Regions from separate parts of the Homo sapiens genome. Here region 2 is linked to region 1. A link means that fine-mapping ties the variant in region 1 to the expression of a gene that starts in the linked region. Tissue or cell type: monocytes after LPS. Region 1 holds a variant in brackets; the other region holds the start of a gene. All regions are shown on one strand. Distances are between the middles of the regions.

The links. PIP is the estimated chance that this variant, and not a neighbour inherited with it, causes the effect.
Region 2: it holds the start of RAB35, and the variant in region 1 is fine-mapped to the expression of RAB35 in monocytes after LPS (Quach 2016, PIP 0.91).

Annotation. Positions count from the first base shown.
Region 1 is chr12:119,968,031-119,976,210 of GRCh38, reverse strand. LOC112268087 (a long non-coding RNA gene) reads right to left here. Exons shown (of 4, transcript XR_002957391.2): 4 at 1,014-1,193. Among named protein-coding and RNA genes, the nearest start is that of BICDL1, 17 kb to the left of the region's middle. The variant G/AG (reference allele first, on the strand shown) is at 3,323.
Region 2 is chr12:120,113,507-120,121,686 of GRCh38, reverse strand. It overlaps RAB35 (RAB35, member RAS oncogene family), which reads left to right and starts at 4,934. Exons shown (of 6, transcript NM_006861.7): 1 at 4,934-5,088. The coding sequence starts at 5,037. It overlaps RAB35-AS1 (RAB35 antisense RNA 1), which reads right to left and starts at 4,780. Exons shown (of 1, transcript NR_182302.1): 1 at 2,684-4,780. RefSeq lists enhancers at 1,691-1,750, 2,866-2,915, 2,956-3,025, 3,056-3,155, 2,575-3,366 and 2 more and silencers at 3,868-4,046, 4,034-4,093, 4,184-4,533, 4,694-5,003, 5,104-5,233.

The sequences.
Region 1 (8,180 bases):
TTACAATACTGCTGGAAGAATCTATATGGAAGTTCTGATGGAATGGAAGACAGAGGTCAGAGATGTTATAAACAAGAGAAATAATTGCTAAATTTGGAGTCTGATCAGCTATTAGAGAGTGAGAATGAAGAAAAAGGAGGATTCAGAGATGCCTCTGAGGTTACCAATGTGGACAACAAACAGAATGATGGTGTCTTGCCAGAAACAGGAAAACTGGAAAAATAGCAAGAATCAGATAATTAGGCCCTTTGATTTGGCTATGGCCAAGGACCTCTCACCTATATAGGGAAAAAGGCAAGCGTGAAATCAATATACATAGCAATGATGAGAGCGAGTTGTTCACACAGACACGGTGGCTCATGCCTGTAATCCCAGTACTTTGAGAAGCTGAGGTGGGAAGATCATTTGAGCCCAGGAGGTTGAGGCTGCAGTGAGCAGAGATTGCACCACTGCACTCCTGCCTGGGTGACAGAATGAGACCCTGTCTCAACAAAACAAAACAAAACAAACAAAAAAAGAGTGAGTTGATGACAAATGTATCAGTGGGATTGAAAATGCAAAGTTCTTCCTCATCCAGCAGAAAGCATCCTAGAGAAAACTACAATTGATGCAGGAGAAGAAATGAGAACACTTGACAGGAGGAGGAAGATCGTCCCATGTTTGGAAAACCATTGGGGTAGATCTGGCAGTGGGACAGGGAACTGAACAGGGTTCTGTGCCTGTGGATCAAGTGACCATTTCCCCATTTTCCTCAACTCCCATCTACATCAAAGTGCATGGGACTCCTTTTCCTGACAGCCAACTTCTCCCACCCACTCCCTATCTAATAAAGGAAGGGATGATGGAAAGAAGCAGGCCTTCCTGATGGGTTTAGAAAATAATTGCATAGAACAAAGCTATATGTATGTTTTATTATGCATTTGCATTTACAGAAAATCAAAACTTTGAAAAGGCTTATATTCAAGAAGACATATGAAATCACCCAATTAAAAGATAGATGGCAAAGACTCAAAAACTGATTATAGAATTTAATTTAAGAAAAATCAAGAAATACATCAAAGGTATAAATCTGCATTTCCCTGGGGTCTCAATTCAGTGATTCAGCTTCTTTTTAGTAAGTGGGTCAGAAAACTGCTAATCCTGTAATGATTTTGTTCAACTGCACCCAGCTGGTAGATGTATTTCTTGCAGATCTAAAAAAAACAAGTATGTTAAAATTGTCAAAGTTAATGTCAACCCAATATCCAATTGCTTTGTTTATCAACCATGAAACTTGATTGAAAGTCTGTTCTTTTAATTGGCAAGTAGTAACAATGTTGTTTGTATTTTTGAGATGCTGTGTTCCGTGTTGCACATTTCTATGGTATAGCTGATACAATGACACCATATAATAGGGAGTCTCAGGCAGGGCGTGGTGGCTGACGCCTGTAATCCTAGGACTTTGGGAGGCCGAGGCGGGTGGATCACGAGGTCAGGAGTTCGACACCAGCCTGGCCAATATGGTGAAACCCTGTCTCTACTAAAAATACAAAAATCAGCTGAGTGTGGTGGCGCACGCCTGTAGTCCCTAGTCCCTGGTGCTTGGGAGACTGAGGAAGGAGAATCACTGGAACCCGGGAGGCAGAGGTTGCAGTGAGCTGAGATCGCGCCACTGCACTCCAGCCTGGGTGACAGAATAAACTCCGCCTCAAAAAAAAAAAAAAATAGGGAGTCTCATACTGGATGAAATTCAACAGGACAAACCGGTTACACTACAATATGAGGGCAAATATAGGAGCTGATGTATTGGCCTTGTGAAAACAGCTCAGGTTTGAAAACAAAAAACAAAAGGCATAAGTCATCATAGAGAAGCTTTTTTTTTTTTTTTTTTTTTTTTTTTTTCTGAGACGGAGTCTTGCTCTGTCGCCCAGACTGGAGTGCAGTGGCCTGATCTCAGCTCACTGCAACCTCTGCCTCCCAGGTTCAGTGATTCTCCTGCCTCAGCCTCCCGAGTAGCTGGGATTACAGGCGCGCACCACTATGTCCAGCTAATTTTTTTGTATTTTTGGTAGAGACGGGGTTTCACCATGTTGGCCAGGCTGGTTTCGAACTCCTGACCTCATGATCTGCCTGCCTCGAACTCCCAAAGTGCTGGAATTACAGGCGTGAGCCACCGCGCCTGGCCTTTTTTATTTTCCCCCTTCTTTCTTTCCCTTCCTTCCTTCTGGCCTTTTTTCCCCTTCCCTTCCCTCCCTCCCTCCCTCCCTCCCTCCCTCCCTCTCTCCCTCTCTCCCTCCCTCCCTCTCTCCCCTCCTCCCTTCCTTCATCTCTTTTTTTTTTTTTTTTTGAGACGGAGTCTCACTCTGTTGCCCAGGCTGGAGTGCAATGGCGTGATCTTGGCTCACTACAACCTCTGCCTCCTGGGTTCAAGCAGTTCTCCTGCCTCAGCCTCCTGAGTAGCTGGGATTACAGGTGCATGCCACCACGCCCGGCTAATGTTTTTGTGTTTTTAGTAGAGAGAGGGTTTCACCATGTTGATCAGGCTGGTCTCGAACTCCTGACCTCGTGATCTGCCTGCCTCGGCCTCCCAAAGTGCTGGGATTACAGGCATGAGCCACCGTGCCCAGCCCCTGTTTTTGTTTTTGAGATGAAGTCTCATTCTGTCACCCAGGCTGGAGTGCAGTGGCACAATCTCGACTCACTGAAGCCTCTGCCTCCCAGGTTCAAGCAATTCTCCTGCCTCAGTCTTCCCAGTAGCTGGGACTATAGGCATGTGCCACCATGCCCAGCTAATTTTTGTATTTTTGGCAGTGATGGTGTTTCACCATGTTGGCCAGGCTTGGTCTTGAACTCCTGAACTCAAGTGATCCACCTGCTCAGCCTCCCAAAGTGTTGGGATTACAGGCATGAGCCACCACACCTGGCCCCATCTTAACCATTTTTAGGTGTAGTTCATTAGTTAGGGATATTCATATTGTTGTGCTACCGTCACCAAAATTCATACACAGAACTCTTTTCATATTGCAAAACTGAAATTCTGGCCGGGCGCGGTGACTCACGCCTGTAATCCCAGCATTTTGGGAAGCTGAGGCGGTCGGATCATCTGAGGTCAGGAGTTCGTGACCAGCCTGGCCAACGTGGTGAAACCCTGTTTCTACTAAAAATACAAAAATTAGCCGGGCGTGGTGGTGTGTGCCTGTAGTCTCAGCTACTCGGGAGTCTGAGGCAGGAGAATCACCTGAACCTGGGAGGCGGAGGTTACAATGAGCTGAGATCGTTCCATTGCACTTCAGCCTGGGCAACAAGAGTGAAACTCCATCTCAAAAAAAAAAAAAAAAAAAAA[G/AG]AAACCTGAAATTCTGTCCCCATTAAACAGTAACTCCCCTTTTCCTTTTCCCTCCAGCCCTGACAACCACCATTCTACTTTCTGTCTCTAGGAATTTGAGTCTAGGTACTTCATATATAAGTGGAATTATACAGTATTTGCCCTTTTGTGACTGGCTTATTTCAATTAGCATAATGTCCTAGAGGTTCAACCATATTGCAGCATATGTCAGAATTTCCTTCCTTTTTAAGACTAAATAGTATTCCATTGTATGTGTATATCGTAGTTTATCAGTTTGTCTGTCATGAACACTTGGGTTGCTTCTACTTCTTTTTTTTTTTTTTTTGAGATGGAGTCTCACTCTGTCACCCAGGCTGGAGTGCAGTGGCGCAATATTGGCTCACTGCAAGCTCCACCTCATGGGTTCACGCCATTCTCCTGCCTCAGCCTCCCGAGTAGCTGGGACTACAGGCACCCACCACCATGCCTGGCTAATTTTTTTGTATTTTTAGTAGAGAGGGGGGTTTCACAGTGTTAGCCAGGATGGTCTCGATCTCCTGACCTCGTGATCCGCCCACCTTGAGCTCCTAAAGTGCTGGGATTACAGGCGTGAGCCACCCGCCCGGCCGCTTCTATGTTTTGACTAGTGTGAACAATACAGCTATGAACATGGGTGTTCAGATATCTCTTGAGTCCTGCTTTCTATTGGTTTTATACTCAGAAGTAGAATAGCCAGATCATATGGTCATTCTACTTTTTCTTTCTTTCTCTTTTGAGACAGGGTCTCACTCTGTCCCTCAGGCTGGACTGCAGTGATGCGATCATATCTCACTACAGCTTCTGCCTCCTGGACTTAAGTGATCCTCCCACCTCAGCCTCCCGAGTGGCTGGGACCACAGGCATGTGCTAGCAAATCAGATTTCATTTTTTTTTTTTTTGAGATGGAGTCTCACTCTGTTGCCCAGGCTGGAGTGCAGTGGCACAATCTTGGTTCACTGCAACCTCCACCTCCCGGGTTCAAGCAATTCTCCTGCCTCAGCCTCCCGAGTAGCTGGGATTACAGGTGCCCACCATCACACCCGGCTAATTTTTTTGTATTTTTATAGAGACGGGGTTTCACTATGTTGGCTAGGCTGGTCTCGAACTCCTGACCTCATGATCCGCCTTCCTCAGCCTCCCAAAGTGCTGGGATTACAAGCGTGAGCCACCACGTCTGGCCCCAAAATCAGATTTCTAAGACTTTCAGACCATGGCCAGGCACATAACAACTACTATATAAATGTTGAATCTTGTTATTGATGACAAATTCTCCAAGGTATTATTACCTTATGAAATCTCTTAATAGGCAAAGTCTGACCTCATAGAGCACATAGGCAAGCTTCTTTTCTGTTGAAATCTGCATAATTCTGTGTGTGTGTGTGTGTGTGTGTGTGTGTGTGTGTGTGTGTGTGTGTGTGGTGGGGGAATGACAGGGTCTCATCATGTAGCCCAGGGTGGCCTCAAACTCCTGGGCTCAAGCAGTCCTCCTACCTCAGGCTCCCAAGTAGCTGAGACTACAGGCACACCACTATGCCCAGCTTGCACAACTTTTTTTTTCTTCTTCTTTTAGACAGGGTCTCACTCTGTTGCCCAGGCTGAAGTGCAGTGGCACAAACGTGGCTCACTGCAGCCTCAACCTCCTGGACTCAAGCAGTTCTCCTGCCTTGGCCTCCCAAATTGCTGGGATTTATAGGCATAAGCCACTGCACCCGGCCCCAGCTTGCATAACTCTTATTCTCAAAGTATAAATAAAATTGTGAAGGATTCATCTGGGCATGGTGGCTCATGCCTGTAATCCCAACACTTTGGGAGGCCGAGGCAGGTGGATCACCTGAGGTTAGGAGTTCGAGACCAGCCTGGCCAACACAGCAAAACCCCATCTCTACTAAAAATACAAAAATTAGCTGGGTGTGTGGCGGGCACCTGTAGTCCAGCGACTTGGGAGGCTGAGGCAGGAGAATCGCTTGAACCTGGGAGGCAGAGGTTGCCGTGAGCCGAGATCATGTCACTGCACTCCAGCCTGGGTGACAGAGTGAGACTCCGTCTCAAAAAAAAAAAAACATTATGAAAGATTTATTTTGGTTGTCTTCTCACCTCTTCTTTTGGTGCCTCTTCCCCTGCTTCCAAGCACGCTACACCCTCCAGATTTTCTACTATGGTGAGACAAATCACCCCCAACCCCAGGTAGTACCCTAAGATCCGGGCTTCCCACAACCCAGTAAAGTTACTGTTTGAGAAATTTATGATGTCAGTAAAGACATTTATGATGTCAATATGAGAAATTTATTGATGTCAATGCAGTCATTACTGATAACGGCTGTGGATTACATATGCATATGTTTTAACCTTCCTAGAAATTTATTGTCAACATCCAAAGCAAAGCTCTTAAGTTGTAGAATTTAATTGACTGAGAGAGGCCAAAAGGGACAAAACTTTTAGGTCATACGAGGCCTGTTTGTTGTCACTTTGTCTGTTGTTTTCTCTATTGTCCCTTTTAAGAATTCTGGGCCAAGGCTGAGCACGGTGGCTCACGCCTGTAATCCCAGCACTTTGGGAGGCCAAGGAGGGCGGATCACCTGAGGTCAGGAGTTCAAGACCAGCCTGGCCAACATGGTGAAATCCCATCTCTACTAAAAATACAAAAATTAGCCAGGCTTGGTGGTGCATGCGTGTAATCCCAACTACTTGGGAGGCTGAGGCAGGAGAATCACTTGAACCCAGCAGGTAGAGGTTGTAGTGAGCTGAGATCTTGCCACTGCACTCCAGCCTGGGAGACAGAGGGAGACTCTGTCTCAAAAAAAAAAAAAAAAAAAAAAAAAAAAAGAAAAGAAAAAGAAATTATAGGCCAATGACAGAAAGAGAATTTTATGCCATTTTCAGGAGTTTGGATGAGACTGGGGAAATTCTGGGGCTAAATTAGGGGATCAGGCATGGGTGATAACCACTATATAAGATATTTCAGGGCTTGGGGGGCAGAAATAATAACATGAAATGAAGCTGATCAAAGCCTGGGACAGGCACTGACTGAATGAATGAAGCTGATCAAAGCCTGGGACAGGCACTGACTGTTTCTACTGGAGCAAAATCAGGCTTGGCCCAGGGGAACCGAAGCAGGGAGCTGGACTAGTCGCCATTTATTTTGTTACTAATTATGTGTTAATACATGACACCAAAACGAGCCAATGGTTCAGAGACTCACAAAATATGGATAAAATTGCTAAATGGAACTTACAAAGAAAATGTGAGTGAATAGGATTATCTAACCTGAGAGAAGTAATAACATACTCTGTTATTTTATAGAAGGTGGTGATCAATTACTCTTTTCTTTTTTTTTTTTTAGATGAAGTCTTGCTCTGTCGCCCAAACTGGAATGCAGTGGCCCAAGCTCGGCTCACTGCAACCTCCACCTCCTGGGTTCAAGCAATTTCCAGCTAATTTTTTGTATTTTTAGTAGAGACAGGGTTTCACCATGTTGGCCAGGCCGGTCTCGAACTCCTGACCTCAAGTGATCCACCTGCTTCAGCCTCCCAAAGTGCTAGGATTACAGGTGTGAGTCACTGTGCCCAGCCTCAATTACTCTTTAATTGCACTGAAGGATTTTATTAAATATCAAAGAACATTCTCTGAAATGCTGGTTGCCAGACACTAGAATTATTATTTATTTTATTTTATTTATTTTTGAGGCAGGGTCTCACTCTGTCATTCAGGCTGGAGTGCAGTGGCACAATCATGGTTCACCACAGCCTTGACCTCCCAGGCTCAGGTGATCCTCCCACTTCAGCCTCCTAAGAAGCTAGGACTACAGGTGCCCACCACCACGCCTGGCTAATTTTTGTATTTTTTGTAGAGACCAGGTTTCACCATGTTGCCCAGGCTGGTCTTGAACTACTGGGTTCAAGCGATCCACCTACCTTGGCATCCCAGAGTGCTGGGATTACAGGCATGAGCCACTAAGCCCAGTCCAGACACTAGAATTATTTACCGACTTTACAGGCTGTGGGCTGCTTTTAAAAATTGGGGTGGTAGGCTCGAATGTGGTTTAAATAGGATGGTTTGGGTGTGGTTCTGATGAACGTCCAGATTTGAATAAATGATACACAAATAAGCTTATCATTCTATTATAATTAACCATAAAAGCAGAATTTAATCTGTGATGACTTAAGCTTATCTGCTATATTGGTAATTTACGTCAACCTGTAGTAACAATATTTACAGAAAGTTCTTGCCTTTAATTTAACACTTAGGTTATTACGGTAACTGGGCTTCTTTGAGATGTCTAAAAATAAATCTGGATAGTTTGTTTCAGTGAGAGGAAGTTTTGAAAGTGAAAAGTGAAGGATACAATTTTATATCAAAGACAGCTGCAACTTCCATGTTAAAAATTACTTTTCTTTTTATACGAATGGAATTTGACTCAAAGGCTAAGATTAAGTCTGCAGGACTCAAGCTAGGTTGTGGAATCTCATTAGACTCTTGTGTAATACAGGTTCCAAATTTGGTGTGACCACAAACTGTTACTATAGGAAACCGACCTTTGACAATTTCCTAAGGAAGGAAGGAGCTTTTTGTTTGTTTGTTTGCTTGTTTGTTTGTTTTTGAGACAGGGTCTCACGCTGTCGCCCAGCCTGTAGTAGTACAGTGGTGAGATCACAGCTCACTGCAGCCTCAACCTCCCAGGCTCAAGCGATCATCCCACCTCAGCTTCCGAGTAGCTGGGGCTACAGGTGCGAGGGGAAGCTTTTCTATTTTGAAGCTACCTGGAGAAGAGTGAAGAGTACATTACTTGTATGGGCCCGGGCTGCCAACCTCACTTGCTTTTTGTTCACTTTTCTCCTGAAGT
Region 2 (8,180 bases), 150 kb before region 1:
CCCTGAGTTAGACCCCAAGTTTGGCCCACACCCCAAAAAGTGAACTCAAGAGAGGGTTCAACTAATTGTATCTGACATTCTGTCCAACTCTCACACTGTGTGTGTGGCTTCACTTTAATTCAACAGGTATCAAGCACCTACCAGGCACTGGGTCTCCAGAGGATACAGATAAAGAGATGGTCCCTGGAATCATGGAACTTACATTCACTTGATTTCTGGGGGCTACATCAGGGCAGGGCAAGGCCCACTGCCAAGTCTCTTGGTGTGGCATCAGGCTTGCAGGTGTGGGAGAAAGGGCCCGTTTCCACTTCCATCAGAGGGAGACACCAGGCATCATATCATATCCTCTCTTCCTTCCCTCTTGGACCAGTATGCTGAGTGGTCCCCATCTTGCTCCTAATTTAAAGTCCCTGTCGGTCAGTTTACCTGCCTTCTCTGAGTTCTGATTCACCACCCACTGCTTCCTTCCTGGATGATCACAGCACACGTTCCCTCCCTTGCTACCTAGCACTCAGCAGCTTTGAAGTCCATGTTGCTGTCTGAAATAATGGATTTCACAGGTCCCTCCAACCTCCACTGCACTGATCTTCATCCCTGACACTGCTACCCTTGAGGGCCTGAGGTCCCCCTCTCCTTTACCCACTTAGCCTTCTGGTTGGTGACACTTTACTTCCCAAAGCTCTTTGAAGCGCCCTTAGCTCATCTTCCCTCCAAATATTCACTCCTTATTATTTCCTGGCTGCTAATCCTCTGCTTCCACTATCCTGAAAAATACTTCATGAGCCCCACTGCTCTCACCACCAAGCATTGTTTCTCTTGTCATCCACTGCCAAACTTCCTGCCACCTCTGTGGCTCCACTGCCTGCTTCTGCAAACCTCAGCGTGCTCCCTGCTTTACTTTTCTCCTTGGACATACTTGGTGCCTGTATTCTCTATCAGAATATAAGCTCTATGAAAGCTGGGATTTTAAAATTTTACTTACTGCTGAATCCTCAGCTCGTAGATCAATGTCTGGCATAGTAGGCCCTCAAGTATTTGTTGAATGAGTGAATGACTTGTTCCCCACTAAACTGTAAACTCCGTGAGGACAGGAGCTTTGTTTTGTTCATGTTCTAGCCTCTGTGCCCACTACAGTGCCTAACACCTAGTAACTGTGCAAATTTTTTTTTTTTTTTTTTTTTGAGATGGAGTCTCGCTCTGTCACCCAGGCTGGAGTGCAATGATGCGATCTTGGCTCACTGCAACCTCCACCTCCCAGGTTCAAGTGATTCTCCTGCCTCAGCCTCCCGAGTAGCTGGGACTACGGGCGTGTGCCACCACACCCAGCTAATTCTTTTGTATTTTTAGTAGAGATGGGGTTTCACCATGTTAGCCAGGATGGTCTTGATCTTCTGACCTCATGATCCACCCGCCTCGGCCTCCCAAAGTGCTGGGATTACAGGCGTGAGCCACTGCACCCGGCCACTTAATATTTACTGAATTAAGGATGAATCCAGTTACCAGGTAAATTACGTGATTTTTTTTTTTGGAAGCTGCTTTGTCTAGTTTATAAGTTTGCTTATTGTCTTTTGCATCTGTCCCTGCTGTTACCTTACACCCAGGCTTCAGCAATAACCTTTAAAGCTCTGCAGCTGAAATCCATCCTGCACCCTGCCAGATTACTTCACTAAAATATTTTGAGATTGCCTCTTTGCTCAAAAACTTTCAATGCCTCCTCATCGTATTAATAGTTTCTAATGTGCAAACAGGTGGTGTTGCAAAAGTTCATCTGTAAGTTAGCTGTTCAGAGCAGTGGAACAAAGTTTCCCATTACTGGACACACTGATCCTTTAGGTCACACAAGTTTACATATGTATACAGTGAGAAGGAGAAAGAAAGCTTAACATAACTCATCACTGAACTGTAGTTTAAATAAATGTCTAACAATGTTTCCAGAAGAAAATGTGCTGATTCATTTTGAGATGCCAGGCACATACCCTGGCCTGCAGGGAATTCCCCTCCAAGCCAAATGATGATTCTCATAGACTGTGACAGGGACTGTCTAAATAGACACTCAAAGCTCTCCTATTCCAGTGCCATCATGACATCTTTATGATAAAATCTTCTCCCCATCATTCTAACTAAAAGCTATAGCTTTCCTCCTCTGAAGTCTAGACTGCATATCTGACAGCTTTTCTATCTACTGTATTGTCTTATACTTTCAATTTCCTCATGAGTATGTCTTAACTCTTGATGAGGCTGTGAACTGGTGAGAAAAGGCTCTGTTCCTTTTTTTTTTTTTTTTTTTTTAAGACGGAGTCTTGCTCTGTCGCCTAGGCTGGAGTGCAGTGGTGCAATCTCGGCAACCTCTGCCACCCGGGTTCAAGCGATTCTCCTGCCTTAGCCTCCCGAGTAGCTGGGATTACCGGCGCCTGCCATCGTGCCCGGCTAATTTTTTTTATTTTTAGTAGAGATGGGGTTTCACCATCTTGGCCAGGCTGGTCTTGAACTCCTGACCTCGTGATCCTCCCGCCTCAGCCTCCCAAAGTGCTGGGATTATGGGTGTGAGCCACAGCGCCCGGCCTAAGGCTCTCTTCTTATAACCTCTGCAATCCGTGGCACATAAACACTCATTAAATAGTTACCAAAGAAATGAAGGAATTTATGCCGATTGCTTTCCAGATGACACATGCAGGCAAAGTCAGGAATCTGGTTTTAATGGCCAATTTGGATTTATTTCCCAAAAATATCCTACAGCCTTATTATCAGGAAGCTGCCTTGAAAATGTGTGCTAGAGTCTACAGTAGGAAATGGCTCAAAGTATGAATCAGTGCAAAATGACCTTGAGTAACATTGGTTACAGTCTGTCACATGCCTACATGTGCCAGGTAATTTACAAACATAACTCTAAAACAACCATTCTGTGAGGAAACGGGGGCTTTGAGATAGTGTGATGTGACTTACCTAAGATCACAAAGCTTTTAAGGGATGGAGGCCAGGATTCCAAAGCTAGCATTGGAACGAAAGTCTTCCCGACACCAGCCCAGGTTGTGAAGATGAGCTAGGAGGACCTACTGCCTCGCTGGCTGGTTAGGGCTGGGCGTGCCTCCCTGGTGGAAGGAAGGTACATACCTTCCTTCTCCCCCTCTATTTCCTAAAACTGCTGAGTCAGAGGATGGCCCTAACCTTCCCGACCAAGGGGGACTTTCTATCGGGAGCACATGAGCAGCTCTTCTCCCTAGCCAGTACCTTCAGATTCCAAGCTCATGTTATTTCGATATCACCACACTGATTCTCAGCTCCCGGAAAAACAACTCAAGGCTTGAGTCAGACACTCCATGTGTTGTTCAATGATCCCGCCTGCAACAATGTTTATTATAACCAAAAAATATAAACAGCATGAATGTCTATTAATAGCGGAGTGGTTAAATAATAGTACATCCGATGGTTATCGGATGGAGTACCATACCACGCAGATGTTAAATGATAAAAGTGTACTGTTAAATAGAAAAAGCAAGGTATGTACATATATGTTTGTACAGGCAAAGGAAATTCACTGGGGGGCACTTATTCATTCAACAAATATGTGTTAAGCATTTTAAGGTTACCTGTGAAACTAACAGGGGTTACCTGTGAGGAGTGCTTCAGAAGGAAAAATAGTAACTTGTACTTTTCAGTAAACTTCTGCACATAATTTTAAGGACGAACATTGTTTTTTTTTTTTGAGACGGAGTTTCGCTCTTGTTGCCCAGAATGGAGTGCAATGGCGAGATCTCAGCTCACTGCAACCTCCGCCTCCCGGGTTCAAGCGATTCTCCCGCCTCAGCCTCCCGGCATTGCTTTTTATAAAGTCAAAAGAAAAGGAAGTTTGATAAAACAAGTAGAACTATCCGATAAATACTCGCCTGGAAAGGGACAGGATTATAAGAAACAGGTAATAAGGAGCTTAAAACCCTCTGCAGTTCTGCAGTGAGGATGGTCGTGGGGGCATACAACTTTCCGTTTCAGGTCAGTTTAGGTAGGGCAGGTGGGAACTCACTCTAAAACGAGAAACCGGGGCTGATGACAAAATGCACACGTTTAGCTTCTGGCGGCCCAGGTCTTCCTAGCCGCAGATTCTGAGACGTGTATCTGCAGGTGGTGTGAAATTGAAGCCGGGGGAGCGGTTGCTTTCGGTCTCCGAGGTGCGCCTTGCACACTGGGTCATTCAGCTCCCAGGCTCGGCTCGGAGCTGGACCACTCCCTCCCCTCCACCAAAGAGGCAATGTGGGCTCCAAGAGGTCACAGCGCTGGGATGGGATTTCGACCCCGCGCTGCCCTCAAAGGCCACCTCCTCGCAGCTCTGCTCCCGCCGGCAGCTCCCGTTCTGTCCAACTCGGAAGCCGCCCGCCGCCCTCGGCGTCCACTCCACAGGCCCGGGGCCGGGGCCAGCTCCGCGGGGGAGGGGTCGGTGCGGAAGGGGCGGGGTACCGGGCCTTCCCCGCGCGACTCTGCCTTCTACGGCCCCGGCCCCTGCCTCTGGAAACCCGGAGCTCGTGCGAGCCCCGCCCCACGGTCGCGGCGTGCCTGTCATTTCCTCTCCGCAGGGCGTGCGGGTCTCGAAGATGAGGGAGCAACAACGTCCACGACCGGGCTTCTCCGGCACCTTGGGCTTCTTTCCGCTGGGACTCGACAGCGGCTCGGCTCCGCAAGCTCTCAGCGCCCAGGGTGGCGGCGACGACGCTCCCCGAGGAGACGCGAGGAAGACGGGCCCGCGCTTGCTGGGACTCCGTCAGGGCGCGTGCGCGACCCGGGCGCGGCCGGCTCAGGCTGCGGCTGCGCAAGGCGGTGCCAGACGCTGCGCCTGCGCAGTGGTGGGGCGGGGCGGGAAGGAGGGAGGCGGTGGTAGCGGCGGCGGCTGCTGAGGAGGAGGAGGGGGAGCGGAGGGAGGTGTTTCTGTCAGTTCCGGCTGTTTGTTCGGGAAGTGGATCCGCCGCTGCCGGAGCAGCCCGAAGGGAGCTGCGGATCGCGAGGCCAGTACCGACCCCGCCCGCCCGCGCGCACCGCCCCCGCCCGCCATGGCCCGGGACTACGACCACCTCTTCAAGCTGCTCATCATCGGCGACAGCGGTGAGGGCCGCAGCGGCCGGAGGCGGCGCGGGCCCTGCCGGGCGCGGCCCGCGGGGGCCTCGGGGCGGCAGGCGGGCGGGGAGGTGCCGGCCCGTGCGGGGCGGGCGGGCGGGGCAGCCCGGCGGTCTGGGCCCCAGGGGTGCGCCGAGGGGCTCCGGACCGCGCCGAGGGGAGGTTGGGGCGCGGGGCGGAGGGGCCAAGCGCGCCGGGTCCAGTCATCGCGCCTGTTCCTGCCTCACGTGTGACCTTGGTCAAGTCGCGCGATCTCTGGAGTTGGAGAGACGTGGGTTCGAGTCTCAGGACTACCACCTGCCTCGCGCTGACCTTGGGCAAGTTGCTTCGCCGTCCTGAGCCTCAGTTCCCTCATCTGAGAAGTGGGGATGTGCCTTGCTGGGTGGTGTGAGGATTCGATGGGATAAAGTAGGAAAAGTGCGTAGCGCCCTACCCGGTAAAGTAAGCTCGAAGTAAATGTTCACTATTGTCATTATCATCAGTATCCTTTATAAGCGTCAGTTTCTTCCCATCTAAAATGAGGACGTTCTCAGAACCTGCCTCATGGGATTGCCGTGAGGTTTAAATGAGGTAAGTCGGATAAAGGGCTTTGCACAGGGTCTGGCATATTCCTGCTGAATTATTATATCCCTGCGTGGTTCAGTTTCCTCATCTGTAAGATGGAATGATAGTTGGATCTGCCTTATGGGGTTGATGTGAGTATTAAGTGAGATTCTGCAGTGTTGCTCACAGCTCCTGGCACATAGTGAGTTGTCACTGTTTGCTGTTACACTACTATATACAGAGGGGTCCTGGGGATGGGACAGCCAAAATTATAAAAGTGCTTTGGCCACACACACACACTGCTTGAGGGCTCCTAGCTCTGATCACTGCTCTAGCTCCAGTGCCTAGAACAGTGCCTGGCACCCAGTACATGCTTAAGACATATTTGCAGAAGGAATTAATGAATATTAAGTGTCCTTCGAAAAGGTAGACTGGTTTCTGGGAAAAGGTGGAGGGTTTTAGAGCTGTTTGGAGTGTGGCAGGTGAGCAGGTTTATGGAGTGACCAAGAGGTCAGGAAGGCAGGCCCCAGAAGGTTTATGGGAGCGAAACTGAGGTGCTGGGGTTATATGATGTTCATGAAAGAGTCTTGGGAGCATGCTCAGTTTGTAGACCAGACCTGAGCTGAGTGTGGGGAGGGATGTCTTATGATTGGAGGCAGAGGCCAGGCTGGTGGTAGAGCCCATGGACTGTTAAGGAAAGGGGATCAAATCAAGTGAGCGGTATGACTTGGGATGTAGGAGTGTTGGGTAGCGATGTCAGAGCTAGGTCAGGGAAGTGGGTGGTTTTGGCCTCCCTTTTAAAGCTGGATGGAGATGTGGTTGGTGGTTTGGATCAGGTGAAGGATGGCTGAGGTTTCCGTGGTTGCTGGAGGAGGGGAGAGGTAAGGGGGAAAGCTGGGGGCTAACCAGGGAGATGGAAGAGTAACTGAGGTTGGGGAAGGAGGTAGAAAGGTGGAGTACTGACTGGTTATGGTTTGAATGAAGGGAAACCAGGCAAGCTCTGGAGTGTTCTCTTGGAGATGGCCTTTGGTATTCTTCAGGGTCTTGAGGCTTCTTCCTTTACATGATTTCCTTGCAGCCCTGGCCTGGGTTCTGAGGGACTGGCACTGGGGCCATTTCTCTCTTTTTGGAGTGACAGCCCGCCGTGGTCAGGAGCCTTTATCCCTCTGCAAGACATCTGGACCTCTGCGTTGATATCCAACAGTGAAAAGCCTAAACTCAGCAGGAAGATGCAGCTTGTTGGCTCTTCTCCTCTGTAAAGCCCAGGGGATGGGTTTGGCCCGCTTTCTCACAGTACATTTTGTGTGATGAATTGATTTTTCTCTCCGAAGTCAGGTGTGGGAGAAGACTCATTGGGTCGAGATTTATGTGGTCTAGCTCCTAGGTCAGCCATGTAGGCGTAGGTTGTGCAGAGGAGATGGATGCTGTGCTCTTTGATTTCTCCCGACATTGAGATCCTCAAAGCTGGGAGATGGTAGCCATGGAAGTCCAGACTAAGCTTTGGCAGCTGAGCCCAGAGACTGACATTACACACTCCCCTGAACTGGGCTCCTTGTGTGAATGCCTCCTTAAGATATGTTGAACGATTTCACAGACGCTTATTCTCACCCGCCCCCTGTGTGATTTGTCAAATAAGGAAACTAAGGCTTAAGGCCGGGCGCGGTGGCTCACGCCTGTAATCCCATCACTTTGGGAGGCCAAGGCGGGCAGATCACCTGAAGACAGGAGTTTGAGACCAACTTGGGCAACATGATGAAACCTCGTCTCTACTAAAAATACAAAAGTAGCCGGGCATGGTGGAATGTGCCTGTAATCCCAGCTACTTGGGAGACTGAGGCAGGAGAATCGCTTGAACCTGGTAGGCGGAAGTTGCAGTGAACCAAGATCGCACTATTGCACTCCAGCCTGGGCGACAAGAATGAAACTCCGTCTTAAAAAAAAGGAAACTGAGGCTCAGAGGAGGTGACTTACTTGCCCCAAATCACATAGCTCAGCAGGGGCAAAGCCGGGAGCCACTGCATCTCAGTGCTAATACGTGTGCGAGCAGCTCATGTCAGGGCTGGCAAACAATAGGCCCTCCATGAATGCTGGTTTCTTTCTTCATAAATCTAGAGTTCTGCCCACTCTGCACATTGTGGATGCTTCTGCAATGGATTCCCTCAATCTCTGCATCCCTTCGTTATGCCGGAGGTTCTATATTTTCTTTTTTTCCTTTTTTTTTTTTTTGAGACGGAGTCTCGCTCTGTCGCCCAGGCTGGAGTGCAGTGGCGCGATCTCGGCTCACTGCCGGCTCCACCTCCCCGGTTCACGCCATTCTCCTGCCTCAGCCTCCCGAGTAGGTGGGACTACAGGTGCCCACCACCATGCCCGGCTAATCTTTTGTATTTTTAGTAGAGACAGGGTTTCACCATTTTAGCCAGTATGGTCTCTATCTCCTGACCTCGTGATCCGCCCGCCTCGGCCTCCCAAAGTGCTGGGATTACAGGCGTGAGCCACCGCGCCCGGCCAGTTCTGTATTTTCTATACTTTCCCTTATA